2 separate regions of the Homo sapiens genome follow, and region 1 is linked to region 2. A link means that fine-mapping ties the variant in region 2 to the expression of a gene that starts in the linked region. Tissue or cell type: whole blood. Region 2 holds a variant in brackets; the other region holds the start of a gene. All regions are shown on one strand. Distances are between the middles of the regions.

Region 1 (2,621 bases), 100 kb after region 2:
AACCTCATAAATAAGATCTTTTTGTCATAATGAAAAGTAAGCTAGATAGACTTGACTGAAGTTTCAAGGGCTATCTGATGAGAAGTGGAGGTTGTTTCATTGACATTATTCTCTAAGGTTAGGAATGGACTCTACAACATTCATTCAATTAATTCATTCAGCATACATTTATTTAGCACATATTATGTGCCATGAAGTACTCTAGATACTGAAGACATACCAGTAGACAAAACAAAATATCCTTGCCTTCATGAGACTTCTAATAAAGTAGTAAAATATATAGTGTATCAGAGAGTGGTTAAATCCTATGCAGAAAAACAATGTAAAGAGGTCTAGAGAATGCTGGAGGGATTTGCATATTTCAGTAGAATGGACAGGGAAGGCCTCTTTAAGAATGCAACATTTGAGCGAAGACCTGAAGGAGGAGAAGCCATTGGGATATCTTTTGAAAGGGCTTTTCCAGCTATTTAACAAATTAATTTCTTAACATTTGAAATTTTATTTATATGTAGTCTTTAATCAAATATCCATTGTATATGACATTAGCTGCAGGTATAAGGAAATAAGACAAGAGAACTGAGGTTTATTGAGTGCCTGCCATGTACCAGGCACTGTGCTAAGTATTATGAATGAGGTTTGGTACCTTCACTAAGATTTACAACTTAATGCAGGAGGCAAGGTGTAGACATACACTTCCTGCAGTATGGGTGTAGCAGTTCTTATGAGGAAGGAGAGTTGACTTGAAGTTGCACCGCCAGAAGTAATGCACCTGACCTACCTGAAGTCTACGCCTCCCTTTCAAGATGAATTAGGGTGCAGAGGGTGCTCTCCACTATAACAGAGGGGAAGCCAGCAAGATAATACCTGATCACACCTTTTATAGAGCACTTTGGTTAACAACATGTCTTCACAAATTAACTCACTTAACCTTCATAACAATAAGAAGCAGATGTTCTAAGAAGTGTTACTGTGTCTCTCAGAGATGGAGAAAGGCTAAGAAAGCTGGGTAGTATGACAAGGCAGTTATAAGGTAGAGCTGGACCTAAATTTAAGATAATCTGCTTCAAGCACAGTGCTTTTCCCACCGCAGTGCAGCTGTTATGAGCAGCTGCCGAAATAAAACAGCTTGATATTCTCCTGACTGAGTCCTCCCACTGACTCAAAAGGAGGGTTAGGTTGAGGCTGGGGCGGAGCTAGACCTCAAGAAGAAGCCAACAAAGTCACACACAGCGCTCCCCACCTGCGCTTGCGCAGGGGAGGAACACGCAGTCCGGAAAAACGCCGGGGATTCTGGGTCGCGCAGCCGTGGAGCTACCTCAAGGCGGAACTGGGGAGTCCAGGGCTTCGGCAGCCTGAACACCCGGTGTGAAAGGAAGGTGGCAGACGTGGAGCGGCGCGCATGCGCAGCAGCTCACTCTGCTGAAGGGCTGAGAGGCGCACCCGGGCGGCCAGCTGGGCTCGGAGCGGAACGGGGTCAGGATGGACGAGGACGTGCTAACCACCCTGAAGATCCTCATCATCGGCGAGAGTGGGGTGGGCAAGTCCAGGTGAGGCGGAGGTGCGGGTCGTGACGAGGGTGGCTGGGCTCTTTCTGCCCCGGTGGCTGCTGTCTCCTGGGCCGCGACGGGAACTGTAAACTGCAGCGGCGGGCTCGGGCCGGCTCCGCTCGCGCCCTCCTCGGCCTCTGGGCCGCGCTCTCCCGCGACGTTTGCTTTCCTCTCCCCACCCGCGCCTGCCTGGTTCCCGGCCTTTGCCAGGCCCAAGTTCTCTGGGTCGCTCTCCCTCCTGTAGCGCCGAGAAAACACCATTCCGAGGGCCGCCGCTCGGCCGGCAGGTTTGCTGCGCGGAGCTCAGGGCGTGGCGGGCTGGTTTGGGCCCGAATCCGGCCGGGGGCGCCTTGCCTCGAACCTCTCGGGGTTCAGGCTGCCTGCCACCCCGAGACCCGGGAGACATAGCTTTCCCACTTGAGGGTTTCTGTGGGGCCTTCTCTAAATACATAATGTCCTCGGGAAGTTTCGTGACGCCTTAGGTCCCATTCCTGGCCTGTTTGGGCGCAGCTTAATGTCGATTCTTTTACTTTTTTATTAGTCGGCTGTGAAAGAACTGGATCTTGTGACTGCTGGAAAATTTCGCTTTAGTGTAAGGTCCGAGTGCTTCAGCCGTGGGCCACCTTTGAAAATAAAATGTAATTGTTATTTCTCATTTTGCCACATCCTGTGGAGACAGAAGATTAGTGTTGTGCTTTCATTTTTTACTTTTTCCTTGGGGAAAATAATATTGACAGTGGAGTTGAGTATAAGGTAAGACATGGATCTAGGTGGATGTTGCTAGAGGGCTGTGATTTCATCCAGGTCTTGGAAGAGAGTTCTCCAGCTGATGTCATTCTTGCCATCTGATTATGAGTAGGTTATGTTCAAGGCCGTCCTGATCCTTAAACCACATTTGCACTCCAGGGGCTGTAATCAGTTTCATATTTTAGCTATACCTTCTGATACACGTATCTTTCAAATAATTTTTTGTATTTCATAAATTGAAATAGCCTTAATTCTACAAACTAGAATGAAAGCTCTCCTCAAATAACTTGTAAAAGTCACTTCATAAAGTCTTACTTTTTAAAAGCT
Region 2 (2,758 bases):
TACATGTGAACTGCTGTTCACGTACATGGTCTGTTTTTCCATTAGGATACTCGATCTTTCCACCTCTAGAGATATCCAGTTCAATTTCATTTCCCTGTTTCCTGGCACCTCATTTTTGAACTGTAGAGCCACCTTAATACAATTCTTTCCCTTATATATATCCCCTACCCCACCACATACACGGTGTGCAGCCTCCCGTTTTGTTTTACTCACCTAGAATAAGAAATGGTGAATTGGCAACTATGATGACAAATGGCACCCCAATGTGCAACAGCAGGCCAAAGCCGCTCACCACTGCCAAGAAAGCAGAAATCACTCCAAAGGCCGCAACACACATTTTGTTTCGTATGCAGTCAAACCTGTAAATTTGGAGGGAAAAATCATGGAATTTGTGGTGGTAGCTTTCATCAATGGATAACATTCTTGACTTGGACACCTAGTCATAAATCTCTAAGACAGTAATTTCCACACATATCTGCTGGAGACCTTTAATTCCCAGGGACTATCTCAGAACAACTGAAAAAAAAAAAAGGAAAGAAAGGGAGCAGAAAAGTTAGAAATCTGTAAATCTGTACTTCTACCGACTCTGCTATATGTGATTCTTTGCAGCCAGCCAAGCACTAAGTCACTGACTAGCATTTTGGAACCACAAAGAATTACTAAAACACTGCTAATGGCTAATTCCACTCTGATCTTCAGAAGGGTGTGAATGGAATATAACAGATAATGAAGAGCAAGCTGTACTAGAGAAAGAACATAGATCCAATTATCTTTTTATCCATCCCTGGTCTCTAACTAGCCATAACACAACATTAAATGCCTCCTGTATTTCAAAGTTAGTACAATGTGTATTGTTGTTAACATAAAGTAGGAAAGTCTTTTAAGTTACTTTCAGGATTCTTCTCTACTGGTGAAGTGGGCTCTGTGGAAAAGTTGCTACGAATTTGGAAAAAATTAAAATGTGCTATATTTTAAATGACCCAAACTGTGCCTGTTTCCTTGGCAAACCAACAGAAACAGGACTATATACAAAATATTTTAAAGCATGATTCAGTGCTTTACCTCCTCAGCAACCATAACATTACCTTTTAAAAGATTGGCAACAACCTCTGGTTTTAGATTTTGCTTGTTAGAAATTGCTTCAAAACAAATGACTGATACCTGCATTCAGATATTTTAGTAGGGGAGAGAAACTAAGTTTGGAATTTTAGTCTAGGAGCTGAAGAACTGGAGCCACTGGTTTCAAAACAGCAGGAACATGACTGAAGACCTGCAGGGGAGATCACATTTAAATAGATAAAATTCTTCTTCTTAATAAAATGTCTATACTGTTATTGTATTTCACTTTTTCTTAACCTGGTACTATGAATTAAGGTCGGGGCCCCAACTCAACACACATACACATATAAATTCCAGGGCAAAAGTAAATTGCTTTGTTATAATAAAATCTCTTACTATAATTCTTTCTTTCTTTCTTTCTTTCTTTC[T/TTTC]TTTTTTTTTTTTTTTGAGACAGACTTTTGCTTTTTTTGCCCAGGCTGGAGTCTCACTCTGTCACCCAGCCTGGAGTGCAATGGTGCAATCTTAGCTCACTGCCACCTCTGCCTCCCGGGTTCAAGTGATTCTCCTGCCTCAGCCACCTGAGTAGCTGGAATTACAGGCATGTGCCACCACACCTGGCTAATTTTGTATTTTTAGTAGAGATGGGGTCTCACCATGTTGGCCAGACTGGTCTTGAACTCCGGTGATCCGCCTGCCTCGGCCTCCCAAAGTGCTGGGATTACAGGCATGAGCCACTGTGCCCGGCCTAATATAATACGTTCTTAAAACAACAATATTGGTTTATAGGAGTTTAAGATAAGAAAGTAAAAGAGATGAATTTCAAAATCAGAAAGATTTTGGATAAAAGGATAAAAGGTATATATGACAAGGTTATGCCCATTCCTCCTTTTGAGTTTCTGGATTTCTTAGGTGTGAATTTTTCAGAGGATAGGGGAGTGAAGTATAGTATTGATTATAGAGACTTTGGCTAGATATAAATAAAGTTCAGGACTATCTGTGGTTTCAGGCATCCGTTGTATGTCTTGGATAGTATTCCTGTGGAAAAGCAGGGGATTACTATACATAAAATAGCATGAGCTATAATTGAGTTCAATTTAGAGCACAGACTTTTGAAAAAGTCTTATTTAAATGACTTCATTGCAAGACAATAAATATAGAACCCTGAAATATGTTTCAGTAAGTGTCTTAAATGAGCTAAAGGCAGGTATGCAAGGTATAACCTTCATATATGAGAGTGTGTGAGACAGGCAAAATGGGGATATGTCCTAGAACTGTCTAGGAAGCTCCACCCAGAACGGACATGAGACCCTCTGTGATAAGGAAAGAGAGGGAGCGAGAAGTGTCCAGGGAACTTACAAAAGCACTTGCAGGCAGCCGGGTGCGGTGGCTCACGCCTGTAATCCCAGCACTTTGGAAGACTGAGGTGGGCGGATCACCTGAGGTCGGGAGTTCGAGACCAGCCTGTCCAACATGGTGAAACCCCGCCTCTACTAAAAATACAAAAATAAGCCAGGTGTGGTGGTGCATGCCTGTAATCCCAGCTACTCAGGAGGCTGAGGCAGGAGAATCGCTTGAACCTGGGAGGCAGAGGTTTCAGTGAGCCGAGATTGCGCCATTGCACTCCAGGCTGGGTGACAGAGTGAGACTCCATCTCAAAAAAGAAAAAACACCAAACAAACCAATACTTGCAGAAGGATCAGTT

Evidence for each region. PIP is the estimated chance that this variant, and not a neighbour inherited with it, causes the effect.
Region 1: it holds the start of RAB18, and the variant in region 2 is fine-mapped to the expression of RAB18 in whole blood (INTERVAL, PIP 0.98).

The regions. Positions count from the first base shown.
Region 1 is chr10:27,502,891-27,505,511 of GRCh38, forward strand. It overlaps RAB18 (RAB18, member RAS oncogene family), which reads left to right and starts at 1,414. Exons shown (of 7, transcript NM_021252.5): 1 at 1,414-1,547. The coding sequence starts at 1,480. It overlaps LOC124902399 (a long non-coding RNA gene), which reads left to right and starts at 1,555. Exons shown (of 2, transcript XR_007062097.1): 1 at 1,555-1,834; 2 at 2,089-2,202. RefSeq lists enhancers at 1,110-1,379, 1,490-1,549.
Region 2 is chr10:27,402,999-27,405,756 of GRCh38, forward strand. It overlaps PTCHD3 (patched domain containing 3 (gene/pseudogene)), which reads right to left. Exons shown (of 4, transcript NM_001034842.5): 3 at 214-359. Among named protein-coding and RNA genes, the nearest start is that of PTCHD3, 10 kb to the right of the region's middle. The variant T/TTTC (reference allele first, on the strand shown) is at 1,488.